Homo sapiens: one gene and its partners. The protein of the gene in region 2 purifies or fractionates together with the protein of the main gene of each other region. This does not show direct contact. Each region holds a gene or a part of one and is shown on either strand. Other genes may lie near its edges.

Region 1 (4,404 bases), about 27 Mb from region 2:
CATGTCCTGCTAAAGCTGAGAGGTGAAGGGCTAAAAACACAGTCCTGGCACAGATTCCAGGACACCCCGGCACAGGCTTGTTTGAGGACATTGCCTGGGTAAACAGCCTCCCCTGAAAGTGTTCAGTGTACAACTCTTCACAGAGCAATCGCTCAAATGCGTGGCAGCACGCAGACATGTCTCTCGGCTTCTCTCCTTGTCTCTGTTGCCTTCCTCTCCAGTCGGTGCTTTAGAAATGCTTTATTCCCATTGTCCACTGAAAATACAACCTAGATTCCTTCAGTAAATATCTGTTAAGGAGGTCACATGAAAAGATTGCTCCAACTCATTCTTGCTGGTGGGCTCCCAAGGGTAAAATAATATAGTTCGTGTCTTCTCAGTCATGAGGAAACCATTGTCACTAAATCTCCCTGGGATGCTTCCTACATCCAACCAAACAAAGGGAGCGACAGCTGAGGTCTCCAGGTCAAAAACAAATATGTCACCTTGCTGAGAGATGATGGCCTGAAAAAGAAAAAAAAAAATGAATGAAGTGAAGGATGAGGGAAGAGTTATATAGTCTGTATACAGTTCCTGTAAACATTTATGTGGGCTTAACAAGGAGTCCACTTCCCACAACTTTGGTTCTACAACTGCTAAAGTGCAGTTTCAAACACAAAACAATACATGGAAAATGACTACAGGCTATGGAACGTTACCAAATTATAATCACAAATCAAGGAAATACATCGTCTCCAATCATTAAGGAGAATATTTCACAAGAAGCTCAAAGCTTTACATCTTTTACAGTTTTTCTCAGAGTATCATCAAGAGAGCAACATTTTTACATACAGCCTGGGTGGTTTTAATGACTTTCTAAGGATATATCTGGACCTAGCTACAGAGCCCAACTGTGGAGCTTACATTCAAGTCTCCTGAAAAGATCCAGCAATCTAGAAAGTCCACTGCCAGAAATTTACAAAAGCTCTACCATTAGAGCTTATCTCTTTTACTGCATAGTTAAGTAAAGTCACATTATTAGCATTTTTTTTACATGTGTGAATTCCACAAAATAGCAGCAAAAAGAGACAGTGCAATTTAAATCGTGTTGGCTCCATTCCTCTTAAGTAGCCGAATAGCATATGCCCAGAGTGAGGATGCGCTGCTCCCCAGAGTGGGAGGGTTTGCAAACCTCTCTTTGTGTGAGCACGGAGCTGAGTGCAACCTGGTTTCTTAATCTGTGCATTTGTCATGCAACATCTCAGTCTTACATTATATGTTATGTGTGACATAAAGAATTTCAAAGGGCCATTTTCACTATATATAATTTAGCCTTACATATTTGTGTAATATGTTATCATTCAGGGTTCTGAGTTATACACAAGGAAACCTATATTGATAGAAGCAGAAAAGAAGCTTAATAAAGCGTATCAGGTTGCTCTTCAGGATCAGAGACTCAGGCTTGAATTTGGATGGCAAATTCCCAGATCGCACCGCCCAGCTGTTCCAGTGAAGGTCCTAAAGCAGCCACAGGAACAAGGTTCATGCGGCTCATGCCAGCCTGCCCAGGAAGCTGCCAGGGTAGCATCAGCTTCTGCTGCTCCAAGACCAAGGCCGAAAGAGATGCTGGTGTCATGCTTATGCTGGTTATCTTCGTTGGATTGGAAATCTCCTCTCTGTATGTCTGACTGCAGAGCCTGGGATTCAAGCTTGCACCCTGGCTTCAGGGAGACAGGGAGAACAAGTTTCTGGCATCTCCCTTGAGAAAAGAAGCCAAATACCTAGTCTATATTAGCCCCGAATTAAACATTAACTAACAGTATTATTACTATCATTTTATCTCTTTAAGAAGGACAAGTCTCACTGAAATCAAAATGAGATAGAACAAAGAAAGAGCCCTGCTTTTCTCCCACCCCAATTACCCACCTCAAGGTAATGAAGGCCTAACTCAGGAAAGAAAAAAATTTGGTTTTCAAAATCATAAGTTTAGAGACTGAAAATTCATCCAGTACATAGTGGTTTTTTTTTTCTTTTTTGGAAAAAAATATATGTAAGACTGTCATTTTCTTCTGTTCTCTATTAGTTGTTACAGATAACTTGGATTTTATTATGTGACTATAGAAAGAAGGTATGTTTTCAGTTGTTAGGCTCTTTCAAATAAAACACAAGAATTAGGTGTTTTTATATGATTATTTCTAAATTAAATGTAGAAAATCCCTTTCTATGAAGTAAAAGTGTAAAACAAATTTAAAATTTTCTAAAAACAGAGAATGTAACTTTCTAGAAAGATATTTCCTGAGTGTCCAGAAGATAAGATAATAAAATTAAAAACATATATGTGTACATATATTTCCAACTGCTATGTGTAGGGGAGAAGGAAGGAAAGGTTTTCAACCTACTAGACAAATTCCAAATTCTCCAGCTGCACAATTTTTATAACAACACATCCTGATCATCCCATTTTTATATCTTGGCAATTATAAAAAGATTTGGTGATTGAGCTACTTTGAAGCAATAAATCAAAGAGACTAGAGTGAATATTAATAGACTCTACTTAAAATTAGACTGCGTCAGCTGGGCTCCAATGCTTCCCAGCTACAGGACCTCGAGCTCATCACTTAACCTCCTAAACTGGCTTCCAAACTTACAAAATGCAGATGATAATGCCTGGAGCTGTGGTGAAAGTCAGAGACTATGAGGTGAAGCACCTAGAACACAGCCTGGAACCTAGTGGGCATGCAGGCAGTGGTGATGACTCGAGCTTCCTCTCCCATCACTGCACCTGCCCACTAAGGAGGGGTGATGGGACAAACGAGTAGTGGTCACCAGCAACTCTGACAAATCCTGGATTCGAAATAGAAATCATTTGGTGTTTGCTTTTAGTGGGAAGAGGCCAATCTTCCCCCAGGCCTCAGGTAAACTCAGCACCAAGGGGGACACATGCAAATCTCAGGATGCAAGGAGCTGGCCCAAGAGCAGGAGAACCCCACAAGGCCACAGTCCCCTGCCCTCCGCCATGACCTGTGCTTACAGTGATCTGCGCCTTGCAGAGCCCCACGGCCTCCTTCGGTGAGGACAAGAAGTGGTAGTTGGTCGGGCTCAGGAGTTCATGGTCAGCTGAAAGGTAAAAGGAAACCACACAGCTTTCCCGTGTGCAATTCCCACATCTCCTCAGCAATTCAGACACTGGCTCCTCATAAAGGCAGACAGCCTCTCCTCCTTTCATCACAAAACGTTCAGTCACACGAGAGCACACGGGCTCCAGGGAGCTCCATGTATGGACTCTCACCTGGGGAGAAATAAAACAGAATAAAAACAGGCATTCTTGGTTGCTATGTTTTTAAGGAACAATAGTAGTAATAATTGCTGAAAGTCAGGTTAGCAGAAATGGTTAAGAGACTATGAAACCTGAGTTTTAATCCCAGTCCTGCAAAATACTAGCTATGTGACTAAGTAACTTCTCAGTCTTCATTTCTTCATATGTAGAATGAAAATAACAGCAGTAATGTCACAGGCTGTTGTGAGAATTTAAAAAATAATCCACGGAAGGCACAGTACCTGGTGCGTTGTAATTTTTCTGTAAATGTGACCTATTTTCAGTGTTATTAGTGTCCTCCAAACTATAGCCACCTAAGACTTTGAGTTTCTAGCCTTTCTTTTTACTTAAATTTGTTTTTTAAAACAAATTTGCTTTCCACATGCGCATTCTGAATAGTTTTACTGATTTTCACTATAACATGCCATTTTTAACCATTTCTTTTTATAAAGTTTGGACTATTTCCAGCCTCTCACAATTATAAATAACCTTGCATTTAAGGGGCACATTATAGCATATGTGATTTGCTTTCATCTAGTTATTTTATTTCCTACTCATAGAAATCCTGTAAGAAGAGAGACTGGTATCATTTTACTGAGAAGAAATTGAATCAACAAGATGTGAAGGGTTTTGCTTATGGTCACATGATTAATGGCAGGGTTGTAGCCTGAATATATGTATTCTAACTCTAAATTAATTTCTCTTTTATTTTCCCAAAAGAATGTAACCAAACAACTAAAGAAATCATCTAAAAGTCTCCTTCGATCTTAGAAAACAATCCAAGTAACTTACACTGAGTGTCATCGAATAATCCGAGTGAAGATCTGACACACCATAGATATAGAACGTGTTTTCATTCTCAAAGCCTACTGGCAACAGTGGAGCAAAGAAATTCTGAGCAAAGTAATGAAGCATTTTCCACTTTCCTCCGTACTCTGAAAATAATCAAGAGTGTCAGGAGACGGCAAGGTCAAGTAGTCAGAGAGGCACTGTCCAATGGCCCAGCTGTTTGTGGCTCATCGGGGTTCTAAGGGAGTGAGCATGTGAGGGAGAGTCAACAGTGGAGGGCACCCATGTTTGTGAAGCGCTCTGAGCACTCTGGACATTAT
Region 2 (4,897 bases):
AAGTGCTGAGAACATTGCTGGACATACAGTTCACACTTAATAAGTGTTAGCTACGGTTATTAATCTTGAATGTTATGGAAACATTCTGTTAGCCTGAGCACCATTTTCTTAGGCCCATAAAATTTGTGCATTAAAGATAGGGCTACTGGGGACACACGTTACTAGAATAGGACCTCGCCAATGACAGGGACTGTTGACTCTTGGTCACTGCCGGTGTCTCCAGCACCTAGAATAGTCCCTGGCTTATAGTGGTGCTCAGTAAATACTTGATGAGTTAAATGGTCAGGCCGACCTTGAATGTTCCTCTCTGTATATTTTGTGGAGTTCAGTGAGTATTTAATTTCAGTCGCAGAAAATCTGCAATAATAAATTATATTAAAAATTGGCTGGGCGTGGTGGCTTACACTTATAATCCCAGCACTTTGGGAGGCTGAGCCAGGCAGATTACTTAAGCTCAGGAGTTCAAGACCAGCCTGGCCAACATGGTGAAACCTCGTCTCTACTAAAAACACAAAAATTAGCCGGGCATGGTGGCAGACACTTGTAATCCCAGCTACTCTGGAGGCTGAGGCAGGAGAATCATCTGAACCCAGGAGGCGGAGGTTGCAGTGAGCTGAGATAGTGCCACTGCACACTCCAGCCTGGGCGACAGAGGGAGACCCTGTCTCAAACAAACATACAAACAAACAAACAAAAAAATTAGAGTATAATAGAAAAAACAAGGCAAAATATTGCTTGGAATTTGAATATCAGTTTTAAGGTGGTTTATTATAGTCTAGACATGAAATTCACAGCATACCAACAACTACTTTAAAAACAAGTACTTTTTTAAAAAAAGGTAATGATGAAAGACCTTTTTTTTTTTTTATAATTACCTATACTCTGTGGTTATTTGGGCAGACAAAGCTGGCTTGCAGTGAACTATACTGATTTTAAGAGAAGTCAGCTTTCTACTTAAAGTTTAAGTGTGCAGTTCTTCCCTTACATGGTGCATGGAGTCTTAGAAACTAATTCTCATGTGCTTTCAGACTTGAGCCAGAAAGAATAAGTTCTATGATTGATTTACTCACAATAACTGCAAAACTCAATTTATTTTGTAGACTCAAAGAATGACTATCTTGGTCAAATCTCTAATTTCACAGATAAAATATCAGAGCCCAGAAAGTATCAGACAGGCCCCTTTCAATTCTATGCTGTGAGTCAAGTTGTTTCAACAGGTACAGGTTACTACATTAGGGGCTCTGGCAAACGCAGAGATGATTAAGATTAAGAGCCTGAGCTCAAGGAGTGGGCAGATGCTATGAAGCCAGGGATCTGCAGCAGAGAGCAGATGCCATACGTGCCGTAGGTGATGCACAAATAGCTGTAAGAATTCAAAGGTGTCAGAAAGAGAAACTGCAATTTTAAAATTATTATGTCTTAACAAAGACTTTGTCAAGGCAAAATCATAGTGGCATTTAAATGTTGTGCCTTAAAGCGGAACTGCAACAAACAGAGGTGAAAGCAAGTGGAGGGAGCAGCTGTGGTTGCTGCCGTGCATCAGTGAGAAGAGGATGAGTATGGAGATCCACACATGACCTTGTCGGGCAGACCCAGGGTGTGTGTGAACGAGCGATGAACTGGAAGCAGGGGCTGCTGGGATAGAATGAAGCTACATTTGAAGGACTTCGAGGGATTGTAGGGAAAAGTGAGCCAAATTCGGAAATCAAATCTGGTGTTTCAATGGGTGTTTTGTTTTTTGAGACAGAGTTTCACTCTTGTTCCCCAGGCTGGAGTGCAATGGCACGATCTTGGCTCATGGCAACCTCCACCTCCTGGGTTCAAGCGATTCTCCTGCCTCAGCCTCCCGAGTAGCTGGGATTACAGGCATGCACCACCACACCTGGCTAATTTTGTATTTTTTGTAGAGATGGGGTTTCTCCATGTTGGTCAGGCTGGTTTTGAACTCCCGACCTCAGGTGATCTGCCCACCTCGGCCTCCCAAAATGCTGGGATTACAGGTGTGAGCCACTGTACCCAGCCTCAGTGGGTGTTTTTAAGATGTGAATAAAATAAATCTCTAATCTCATTATAACTTGTTTAGCTATGTGTTTACAAAGCCTCCTGAAGAGCGGTTCACTTTTTGCAGAGAAAGTGGCAGGTGGCTAGTTTTGTTTTATGATGCTTCTTTTAGATGTCACTTTTAGTAGGTGAGGCTTGGGGGCCTTGCCTTGGGATATGGGGGCAGGTTTTGTTCATAATCTATGCCCTGTCCCCTGATTGCCAGAGTGTGTGCAGAGGTTGGATCAGGGGGTTTCTGAGTGTTCCACAACCAGCTCTTATGTCTCTCCCCTCCTCCTGTCTATTGTGAGCTCTGAGGGATGGGAACGGGGAATCTGTCTGGGGATGAGCAGGGTTTGGCTGAGCCCCTGCAAAGCCCCCTACCCAAGACATGTGAAAGGGGTGAAGTGCTCTGTTTGACTCCTAGGTCCATCTTCCGTAAACAGCATCTAGTTTTGGAATTAAAATAAACTGAAGAAAAGGTTAGATCTAGGCTCCCCAAGATTTCCTCCCCTTGTATTTCCCTCTTTTCATCCCTTCCCCAGCCTTTTCTTTCCTTTTCCTAGGGGTTTGCAAACCAATTGTAAGGCTCAGGACACATTTTGTAGTGGGAACAAAGAAAGAGAATAGGAACAGTTGAGAAATGGAATCTAATAAAATCCTAAAGAAAGAAACCTGTGCCCACCTCTGTGGCACCAAAATGCAGCTCAATAGATGTGATTAATTAAAGCAATGAACAAAGACTAAATACCCACCATGTGCAAATTAATATGCTGCTGGAGATAGAAAGTGGACAGTGCTGTAATTCAAAGTGGAATTGTTAGCTTTGTAACCATAATAACTAGTATTTGTACAGTGTTTTTAGCTTGAAGAGTTTTTCACAGATGATAGCTCATTTGGTCCTTGCAAACCCCATAACGATGGATATTGTTAATGTTGTCACTTCACATATGAGGAATCTGATACTCAGAGATTTTAAGTGTGTCTAAAGTCACAGAGCTATTGCTGAGACGAGGACCAAGGTCTTCAGGTGACAAAATCCAACTTCCTTCTCTTTAACCACACAGGCTGATGGAAGCTGAGGTAAATATTTCCAATTTATGGGAACGTATAATCATGGAGCCAGTTTTGTCTTTTCCTACAACTTATTAATTAGTGGACCCACAGTAGAATAAAAGCAAAACCCTTACCTTCTGCCACAGTTACCACCAACCAGCATACCAGTAACCAGTAGGAGAAGCAGTGTCTGCGAGCCATGGCTTCTACTGAGCAGTCACTGCGTTGAACCTGATGTTGCTTTAAAGGGGAGCTGGTGAGTCACCAGCAGCCTGATTCAGGTAATTTGCATTTGCACAGTGGACCACAGAGATCAGGGCTTGCGGTGTGAGGGTAAGAAATCAGCAAGGAAATACCAGACAGTATTTGTCAACCAGAAGCTTCTTGGAATGACAGCCAGATATCAATCATCTCCCCCCAGAGGGGGATTTTGGACAACCGCACCTTCACCATCCTTCTAATCTCTCAAATCTTCTCCCATGTTAGTGCCTTTTAGTTGTGTATATCAGTCTTCCTCTGCAAGAGAAATAAGCTGTCCAGAAATATGCAACAGTGCTTCTCTCTGTGCAGCTTACCTACTTAAAAAGCGAAACAAGAGGGAGAGGGCATTACCCGGAGGCTTCCTGACCCCGGTGGTTTGCAGTGGAGAGTTGGGGATCATTCTTAGGCCCCCAACCAGGGTTTATGCTGCTTCTCTGCTCTGCTTTTGTCCAGGAGGTGAGGGCAGCAGAATCAGAAAGTGATCTTCCCTAGTGGTCATGATGGTCACTGTCTAAACAAACATAAACATTGGGAGAGTAACTTAGTGAGTCGTCCTTTCACGGCTCCTCCTGATTCACCATATTGCATATAAAATGGACATGACATGTCTATGTCCAGTTGGTTTCCTGAGAGAAAGACTTCATCAGCTGCTGGATATATGAGAGGGGATTGTCACAGGTGATTAAGAACATGGACCTTGGAGTCAGGTAAAATTCCAGTCTTTGTTCCTTTTCTTACTAGCTGAGTGACTGTGGTGAGTCCCTGAGACTTGCTGAAGCCTCAGGGGCCTCACCTGTAAAATGGGACTTGTGGTACTACCCTCAGAGGAATTTGTGAATTAAGGAGATGCTTTTAAAAAAAATTTTTTTTAAATTTCAATCTTTTGGGGTACGAGTGGTTTTGGGTTACATGGATGGACTCTATGGTGGCGAACTCTGAGATTTTAGTGCACTCGTCACCCGAGCAGTGTACACTGCACCCAATATGTAGTCTTTTATCCCTCACCTCCTTCCCAACCTCCCCCACCCCTAGCCTCTAAAGTCCATTATATCATTCTGTATGTCTTTGTGTCCTCATAGCTCAGCTCCCACGTATAAGTGAGAACATACGATATTTGGTTTTCCATTCCTGAGTTACTTAACTTGGAATAATGGCCTCCAGCTCCATCCAAGTTGCTGCAAAAGACATTATTTCATTTTTTTATGGCTGAGTAGTATTCCATGGTGTATTTCTACCACATTTTCTTTATCCACTCGTTGGTCGATGGCCACTTAGTTGGTTTCATATCAAGGAGATAATTGACATACAGCTCCAACCACAGTGCCTGGCCTGTGAAAGGGAGTGTTTGTGATTGTCATTAAATTATAATAATCCCAACTGATAATTTATTCTCTTAGGAGGCTGTACTTGCCAAATCAGTTAATCACTGGAAAGACCTCCACTTTAAGCAGAACATTTTCCTGGGTATCATGGAAAAAAAAAAAAAAAAAAAAAAAGAACAAACTAAACATGGTCCCTGTCTTTGAAGGACTGACAATCT
Region 3 (4,404 bases), about 49 Mb from region 2:
ATCACAATGATCTACTTCAGCACCTCGATCAATTAAAAGGCTAACAACTGATGCGTGCCCTTTACTTGCAGGCACACAAAGTGCAGCTACAGAGAGTGCAGTCCTGCCATCAACATCCTCATGATTTACTTCTGCTCCATGGTCCAGTAGGTGTTCCACAATCTCTCTATGTCCCATGTATGCTGCTGCTATCAAAGCAGTTCTACCTTCATTATCAGCTTTGTTCACTTCAGCGCCATGTTGTAGCAAATTCAGTACAATATCCTCGTGTCCTCCCCATGCTGCTGCTCTCAAAGCTGTTCGGCTATCAGCATCTGCACAATCCACTTTTACGCCAGCATAAAGTAGTGCAGAAACTACCTCAGTATGGCCACCCCAAGCAGCAGATCTTAATGCTGTCCAACCATCTTGATCAGTATGATTAATATTTGCTCCACACCCAATCAAACAATTAACCACCTTGGTATGTCCCTGTCTAGCCGCTAGAGTGAGTGGTGTATGTCCATGAGCATCTTCTATCTCTAAATCTGCTCCCCTAGAGACAAGTAAATTGACTACATCAAGACTGCCACTATATGCAGCATTAGCCAATAATGTTCTCCCATTTGAATCACACTGATTTACTGAAGCTCCATTATCTAATAATGTCCGAATGGAATCCTCTCTTTCTAAGGCTTGTCGAACTATGCATGATGTGCGATCGTCTTCACTGTTGACATGAGCCCCAGCTTTAACCAACAGCTGTAGCACTTCTTGTTCCTTGGGTATCAAAGTAGAAAGGGAATCTCTGACAGGTGTACCATTCCATATCATCCACAGAGCTAACTCCGCTGTCTCTAATTGTAAGTTTGAGTTAATTAAGTGCAATGCAAATTCTTGTGCTTCCAATGGTGTTAAATTCTTGGCTTGACAGGTATAACTCATAGCCAACATTCTGTGTCCTTCTGCTGCATTACATAAATACTTCTGAGTACAGTGTTTCACATCCAGAAGCCACTCGGCAAAACTATAATGAAACAGTATTTTTGTATTTCCTAGTCCATCAACAAGAAGTTTGGAGAGGATATCTAACTTGCGTTGAAAATCTTCCAAAGTTAACGACATGTTTTTGGTCCATACTGCGTGATATAATTCCGTTATGGTCAAAGGTCGGCAGGCTGCAAGAATCACATTCAAAATAGGCTGAACCTTTGCAAATTGTTTTCTTACAAAAAGTCTTTGGCACAGCCAGAGATATAAACCATTTAGAGTTCCTGGGATGTCACGAATTTCTCTTAACATAATAAAATTTTCTACAACTCCATCTAAAACTCGTTCTAGGTAAAGAAAGCATCCACTGCTTTTAATGTGCAGTTGATTTAACATCTCTGCAGTTTCTTTTGTGAGGTGTTGTCGCAAAGCTTCTTCTTGATCTAAACGATGAAGAATGTACTGCTGAACATCCTTGACGATATATGCCTTCCGAAGGTCATCTAAACTTATTTTTCGAAAACCTAAAGAAGAGATAAAAAAGTAGATGTAATCAGTTGAAAAGGATTATAGAAGTACCATATCTTCAAAGAGAATGTCAACATATAATAAATAAATCAATTAATAAATTAATACTAATAAGCAGATCAATTAATACCTATTAGTATGTAAATCAGTTTTCTTTTCTTTCTGCAAAAACACACTGATGGCAGAAAAATTTCATTTTCCTACCTACAAATTGAACTACTTATTCCTTTAGTAGCTTGGTGCCTCTCTCAACTCCATTGTAATAGATACTAATTAAGAAGCAGACAGTCTTACATAACCATAAAAGTACCCAGTTAACATCATCTGAACTCCCAAGTGATTGGGAAAAAAAGTTGCAGGAGACATAACAAGTAAGGTTTCTTTTTACAAAATCTCTTCCATATAAATAATTTATATATTTTCACCTATACACTTGAATATACACTAGCCTTAATTATGTGACTGAATATTTACATCCAATTAGAATATCCAGTCATTGTCTTTAAACTACATTACTGTACATTTTATCAAACTAAAATAACTAAATCTCAGACCATCAATAAATAGCTTGAACCAATTAAGATCCAACTTTTTGGCTAAATTATGGTCAAAAAACTTCAGCACTGTAAAATAAATAATAAGATTTAAACCAACCTAAAAATATACTAGCTATAGCTATTTTAAACTCATTTTAAGTTCTTTAAAGGAAGCCATAATTTCACTGTCTAAAGGCAGATGACATCATGATATACAGATATGAACTTATTAGACAATTGTGTATTCATCTTACAGAACAAAAAACTGCTAAGTGAATGAACTTACCAAGTCTCTAACATGACCAGATTTGCATTTTGAAGGAATATTCTAACATCTAAAGAAGAACTGGAGCAAGTCAAGACTAAAGGAAAAACGATTTTTAAAGAGGCTGTGATGCACTCTAGATGAAAATCACTATGAGCCTGAACAGCCATGGTGGTGGCAGCAGTTGCAGCAGCAGCAGCAGCAGCAAAAATAACGTGATGGACTTGGGAATTTTTAATAAGAGCTAGATTATACAGTGTTTGGTGAATGTGGAGAAGTAAAGAGAGAAGGACGAGTCAAAGCTGACACTAACTTGTGGCTCTGCCAACAGGACTGAAAAAGAGACCAGTGAAGGACAAATAATAGGTTTGGAGAAAAAGCTGATGAACTCAATTTTGTAATACTAAGCTTTAAGTATGTAGACAAAATGGACAGTTATTGAAAAATTAAAAACAACCTACCAAGAATAAAATATGAATAACAGTTGTACTAATATAGCCCTTTGTATATAGATTTATATAGCCCTAAATCTATATAAAAATAGAATCTAATTTTACATATATATGTATACACACACAATTGATTATTAAATCCTCAACAGAAATAATTTCAAAAGATAAATTTCAATTGTGAAAAAGTCACTGCTCACCTAAGGAGGGTTTAAAACATACCTAGAAATTTACAGCAATCTATATTTACCAATGATGTGAGATGATTTGCCTCCAAATCTTTTTCTGTGTGTCCATTTGCTTTTGACTTTATCAATTCACTTTAAAATTTAAGTTAGATAAGGGAAATACCTAGTACATTGCTAATAAAATAAGTTACTTAAGAAATAATATTATTTTACATTATATAGTGTTTTAAAGTTTCTGAAGCAATGTAATACTTTACATTACTTTAATGTAAGACTTTATATTACACTACTTGATTTACATGAAAGATAATACATTATGAATAAATATCTAAAATTTAAACCTAATTAACTAAGATGTCATGATTGGAACTTGAGATTATTAAGACAGAAACTCCACAGTAACAGGTAGGGTTCTACAGAAAGGAATAAAGGAGAGCTACATTTATTGAGAGTCAACTAAGGTAGTAGTTTAAGTATTCATTATTTATAAAACTTCCTTGTCTGTTAAGCCTGGGAGATAAATATTTCTATTTTAAAAAATGAGGAACCTAAAGCTCAGAAAGGCTAAATAAATTGCTCACAGTAACACAGCTAGAAAGTGATAAATTTTGATTGTTTTGTTTGACTTTGAAGTTTGCTCTTTTCATTAAGATAGGAACAAGAATAGAAAGCTGTGAAAGAAAACTCAAGTGTTTGACAGGGGAATGAAGAGGAGGGAGTAGGGACATAGGATTAATTCTATAAGAAAGTATAGAATTTCATAAAGAAAACTTACAGAGAATTTATAATTTAGAGAATAAATCTCCCCCCAATCTAAATACTTAATAATATGGATTTTAGATAGAAGAAATTACCATGTTCTTTACCAATGATGGTTATAATAGTTATCTGTTCATTAAAACAGAACTAAGAATATCTATTAATCAACAACTTAAATATCTTGAGTTACAGTACTGAAAATAATTACTTTTAAAAATTATAACTTCTGACTAATACACATGTAATCCTCTTATTATGAACACACACAATATATAGCTATCAAAGCACTTTTAAACATAAGATAGGGCTGAAAAATAATCAAAACTTCTAGGGGAATAAAAACATGACTTACTGAAATGATGGACCACCTACCTCCCTATTTCTTTTCTATTCTTACTTGAATAGAAGTATTTTTCTATTCTTTTCTATTCTTACTTGAACTTTTCTATTCTTACTTGAACTTTTCTATTCTTACTTGAAACATTTCTATTATTTTCTATTCTTGCTTGAATTATTTCTCAGGGTACCGCATTACGCAGTACTGGTGAAAACAGAGTGAAAGAGAAGACCTGTGCCAATATTTATAAATTGATGCTTACTGAAATTACTTATTATCATGAAGAACATATGAGGATAAGCAATACGAAAATAAAACCTAAAAATATAACAAGAAGTTTAAGCAAATGCCAGCATATTAATATACAAATAAA
Region 4 (5,093 bases), on a different chromosome or scaffold from region 2:
CAAGGTGAATTTTTCCAAACTTTGGGAGCCGGCTGTGTTCTGCAGGCAGGGGGTGCATCTGAGCAGCAGGAGGTGGGGCCGCCTCTGAGCAGCAGGAGGTGGGGCCGCCTCTGAGCAGCAGGAGGTGGGGCCACAGGGCTGCCAAAGGGAGGGCGTGGCTTTGCTGGAACCACATCAGGGAAATGTGTCTGGAAGTGGTTCCTTTCTGAGACCTGCGGTTGCTGGGCTCCTGGGCCTAGCAGGGTCTGAATAAAAGGCCCAGGCCGTGGTCTTCGTAGGAACTGAGGATGGGGGACTCCCTTCCCCTGGGTGTCCCTTGGCCTACTGCCTCCCGTTTCAGAGCTCTCTTCTGCGGAGCGGTGTGGATTGGGTTTAGAGCCAAGCCTTTCTGCGTGCTTCCAAGCCTCAGGTCTCCCTCCCGGGGGAGTTTCCTGCCCTGAACCCCTGTTCCAGCATACCCTGGGGATAAGCAGACAGTGGGAGAAGCATCTCTGCTCTGGGATGGGTTGGCCACAGCCTTCTAAAAGTCCCCCTCCTGGGACCCTGGAGTGGAGTCCCCTCACTCCTGACCCCCTCCTTCCTTCCTTGGCTTCTCTCCCTCAGCAGTGTCTTCCATTTGCCCAGCTTTTACCATCACCCCTACACATTGACTTTTTTCTGCCCCACTGCAAGGCAGAGGGTGAGCGTTCAGATTCCACCTGCTGGCTACCCCTACCCCTGGCTGGCATGTTCAACTCGACTTAACTGTAGCAAAATGTGCTCTCCCTACTGTCCATCCTCTCCCCTGTCGGGAACCTGCAGAGGGACCTACCTTGGCTCCCCTTTGCCCATCAAGCCTGGCGTTCCTTTTAGGTGTAGTTTACCTGTTGATCACAGTTCTTTGTGCTCCAATGTGCCCCTGGCTGTGTGTAACACACACACATGCACACACACACACACACTCATGGGCCAACTTGAGCTGTGTTTAGGAAGAGGCTCTGAGCTCTGTGACCCTGTGACCCTTCGACCCTTCCCCCAGCCAAAGCTGAAGGACCTCCTTAGTCTTTTCTGCTGAGGAAACATCGGGCTGTCCAGGCCAGGGCCCCCATTGGTCTGGACAGGAAAGAAAACACCCTGTCCAAACAGAGGCATCCTGAGCGGCTGCCTGGATGGCTGTGCTGATTAGCAGGATTCCGAAGGGAGGCCCACCCCTGTTGGAGGACCACTCAGAAGCCTGATTGCCCCTGCAGGCTGCAGAGGTATCCCACCCTGTGTCTCCCCTCCCAGCCAGGGCCACTCATTCAAGCCCCATGTGCTGGGGATAGCACCTGCTATGTGCCTGACAGTGAGTTGGGAATCTGGCCAGTGTTTCATGATGGCCAAACTCAGGGGCATGAGGACATCAGCAACCCCTTGCTTTTTTTTTTTTTTTTTTTTTGAGACGGAGTTTTGCTCTTGTTGCCCAGGCTGGAGCACAATGGCATGATCTCAGCTCACTGCAACCTCCGCCTCCTGGGTTCAAGCAATTCTCCTGCCTCAGCCTCCCAAGTAGCTGGGATTACAGGCATGCTCCACCACGCCCAGCTAATTTTGTATTTTTAGTAGGGACAGGGTTTCACCATGTTGCCCAGGCTGGTCTTGAACTCCTGACCTCAGGTGATCCACCGGCCTCCACCTCCCAAAGTGCTGGGGTTACAAGCATGAGCCACTCACTGCACCTGGCCTCACCCCCTTGCTTTCTATTTGGAAAAGAAAGTAATACAGAAGTCTCACCCCTTCCACAATCAAAGGTGGGGAGCAGCCTTAGCCCCTAGCAGAATGCTGGACAGGGGCTTCCCCTGCTTACTCCCACTGTTTTTGGTATACCAGGCTTTCTAAGGGGATCCCCCCTCCCCAAACTCTCCTATTCCACCCCTACTCTCCTTTCCCAAGACGTGAGGGCCTCAACTCTTGCACACCCTCTTTGCGGTGGTTCCCAGCGAGTCTGGAGACCGCTCAAGCCTGCAGCAGCTCCTCCCTTCGAGCCCAGCCCTTGGGAGGGAAAGGTGCGCGTGTTCCTTTAAGGGGCTGGTCTGGCGGGAGCGCGGGGGTTTTTCTGCTGCCGCTTCCTTTCTGCCCTTTTAATTTCCCCGAAATCAGACTGCTGCCTTGGACCGGGACAGCTCGCGGCCCCCGAGAGCTCTAGCCGTCGAGGAGCTGCCTGGGGACGGTACGTGGCTTAGGGGTCGCTGGGCTTCTGGGGCTGTGTGCGGGCCGGGTTCCTCCCTTACCGCTTTGGGTGCCCTGCGGGTCCCCACACCTCCCGGGCAGGGTCCGGGGAAGGGGCAGGAGGCGTGGGCCGGGCACTGCGGAGGCCCGGGCTGAGATGGGCTGTGATCGCGGGCGAGGGGCGCCCGGGGCACAAGTGGGGAGGGAGCGGCGCGGGGATGCGGGCGCCGGACCCTCGTGCCCACCGTGAGGGAGCAGAGCCCGAGCGGACCCCGTGGCCTCCGAGACCACCGTCCGCCTCCAGCCCCCTTCCTGCCAGGGTCCGCTTGGCTCTCTCCCCTGTCGTCTGTCCAGGGTCGGCTGCCTCCAGTGCCGTCCGCGGCGCCCCAGGCCCTGCCCCTGGGTATCTGTTGGATGCTCCGGGGGCCCCGGGAGTCCTGGGAGGGGCTGAGGGCAACCTGCGAGGCGGCTGGCGGACCTGCGCCTCTGGACCGCAGCTGGCCGGCTCTGGGCGCCTGGGGCAAAGGCAACTGATGCCTATGGGTTCCAGACCTCGCTCACCGGGGTTCTTGCCCCAGGGACAGCGAGGCCAGAAGGGTAGGGAGGGTGGAGGGCAGAGCCCTGGGTGGGAGATGGCGACCCTCAGGGAGAAACGTAGGCTTGTGCGCAGCCAGTATGGAAACAGCACGGCACTTGGACCCAGTCCTGCCACCAGCTCGTTGGCAGCCACAGGCCACAGGCAGCCTGTAAACCTGTTGGGACCTTGGTGTCCAGCGCTGACCCGCGGGAGTGCCTGTGCTCCCTGGAGTAGGGGGCAGCGATTGAGAGGGGCCCTGGCTTCTCTCCCTCGACGCCGCCCGGGCCAGCGGATTGGGAAACACCTCCGGTTTTCATTCTCCTGGGGGCTGCAGGTTTCAAAGGCGGAGATCAAGCCTTGTGCAAACAGGGACAGGGATGTCAAATTTCTCGCTGGGAGCAGCGCTCGTGCAGACCTCGCGGGCGATGCTGCCTCCTGCTGGTACCTGGGGGACTTGTACTCACGGAAGGCCCAGTGCGGACATGCACCTGGCAGGGAGGTGGCACCTACCCTCCCTCCAAGCCCAGGCTTATTGTTCTTGGGTGGAGGGGTCCCTAGGCTGGGGCGCCTGGGAAAAGCAAAGGGCTGGTCATCAGGAAACCTGAACTTTCTCTAAGTTCGAGATATTTGACAAAGATAACGCCTTGGGTAGTTCACTGACCTCCACTCTCTTGGCCTCAGTTTCCTCAACTGTGAAGAGGAGGCAGTGGTGACCACTTTGTCTCGTAGGCAGTGAGAGAGGAGAAAGAGCCACTGAGATGGTGTAAGACTTCACTGTGTGAACTGCTCACCAGAGTAGTAACAGGTCATATTTTCCCAGTGCTTGCTCCTTATCAAGCATCAAGCAGTATTTTCAGTGCTCTGCAGCTATTCTCTCCCTTAATCTTCACGAGAGTGTTTTCTGTTTGGTATTGTCGTGACCGCCCCCCCCACCCCAACTTTTTTTTTTTTTTTGAGATGGAGTCTCACTCTTCTTGCCCAGACTGGAGTGCAATGGCTCAATCTCGGCTCACTGCAACCTCCGCCTCCTGGGTTCAAGCGATTCTTCTGCTTCAGCCTCCCGAGTAGCTGGGACTACAAGCGCTCATCACCACACTCGGCTAATTTTTGTATTTTTAGTAGAGATGGGGTTTCACCGTGTTGGCCAGGCTAGTCTTGAACTCTTGACCTCAGGTGATCTGCCCACCTCAGCCTCCCAAAGTGCAGGGATAACAGGCATGAGGCACTGTGCCTGGCTTGTGACCCCCATTTTAAAGATGAAGAAACTGAGGCTCAGAGAGGTGCAGCGACTTGTCCAATGACAGAGGGTTAGTAAGTGGGTGGAGCCAGAACTGAATGCAGGCAGCCAATCTGCTTCTAGAGCCTGAAATCTTTGCCATGTTCATTTGTTGAGCACCTGCTGCATGCCAGGGACCAGACATCATACATCTTCTATAATTGTCACCACAGCCCATTTTTTTTTTTTGAGCTGGAGTCTTGCTCTGTCGGCCAGTCTGGAGTGCAGTGGTGTGGTCTTGGCTCACTGCAACTTCCGCCTCCTGGGTTCAAACAATTCTCCTGCCTTAGCCACCCCAGTAGCTGGGATTACAGGCATCTGCCACCACACCCAGCTAAATTTTGTATTTTCATTAGAGATGGGGGTTTCACTGTGTTGGCCAGGCCAGTCTCGAACTCCTGACCTCAGGTGATCCACCCCCTCAGCTTCCCCAAATGCTGTAGGATTACAGGTGTGAGCCACTGCACCCGGCCTTAAGTTCCTTTTTTTTACAGATGAGGAAATGGAGGCACAGAGAGGTGAACTTGCCCGAAGTCACTCAGCAGGATGCAGTGTGTCCAGCTCCAATACCGAGCCCAGGTCTGAGTGCCCAGACAGGACTCCAGAAGATTTGGGGAACTATCCACTGCCAAGGTGACTGGGCTGGACTTGGTCTTGGGCCTTCCAGCTGGTGGCACCTCTGTGGTGGTCCTGAGGAGTTGGTGGCTGGATAGCCATGGTAGGGGAGCAGAGGCTACCCATCCCTCCCCTCAGTGGTAGTGGTCAGGGATGGTCAGAGATGGACCTGAGGCAAGGCAGCAACCAAGTGGCAATTGCCACTCCTGACTCCCACACAGGACTCTGTCCTGTGCACTGACCTTAGCATTCAAGGCTGTGCTTGTCCTCAGCCCCCGAGTTCCCCTTTAGTCTTCTCTGGAGAGAGGAAATTTTCTGTTCAGAGAGGTCAAATGACTTTCCCAGGGTCACCCAGCTAGCAGGTGGCAGAGCCAAGACCCAACCTCAATGAGTTTAACTTGAAACCTTGGGCCTGTGTGCTGCTCCTCTCTCAGAGAG

The links.
Region 1: the proteins of ODAPH (region 2) and MANBA purify together in Homo sapiens (affinity purification with mass spectrometry; 2 studies listed by BioGRID and IntAct, with this or other methods). This does not show direct contact.
Region 3: the proteins of ODAPH (region 2) and ANKRD50 purify together in Homo sapiens (affinity purification with mass spectrometry; 2 studies listed by BioGRID and IntAct, with this or other methods). This does not show direct contact.
Region 4: the proteins of ODAPH (region 2) and HAPLN3 purify together in Homo sapiens (affinity purification with mass spectrometry; 2 studies listed by BioGRID and IntAct, with this or other methods). This does not show direct contact.

What each region holds. Positions count from the first base shown.
Region 1 is NC_000004.12:102,631,778-102,636,181, forward strand, and holds part of MANBA (beta-mannosidase precursor), read right to left. Parts: intron 4,231-4,404; coding exon 4,088-4,230; intron 3,269-4,087; coding exon 3,011-3,268; intron 505-3,010; coding exon 280-504; 3' UTR 1-279.
Region 2 is NC_000004.12:75,554,483-75,559,379, reverse strand, and holds the start of ODAPH (odontogenesis associated phosphoprotein isoform 2 precursor), read right to left. Parts: upstream 3,315-4,897; 5' UTR 3,298-3,314; coding exon 3,231-3,297; intron 2,840-3,230; coding exon of another isoform or gene 2,796-2,839; intron 1-2,795. UniProt on the Homo sapiens protein: May promote nucleation of hydroxyapatite.
Region 3 is NC_000004.12:124,671,042-124,675,445, forward strand, and holds part of ANKRD50 (ankyrin repeat domain-containing protein 50), read right to left. Parts: intron 1,494-4,404; coding exon 1-1,493.
Region 4 is NC_000015.10:88,892,554-88,897,646, reverse strand, and holds the start of HAPLN3 (hyaluronan and proteoglycan link protein 3 isoform 2 precursor), read left to right. Parts: upstream 1-2,102; 5' UTR 2,103-2,188; intron 2,189-4,534; coding exon of another isoform or gene 4,535-4,673; intron 4,674-5,093. UniProt on the Homo sapiens protein: May function in hyaluronic acid binding.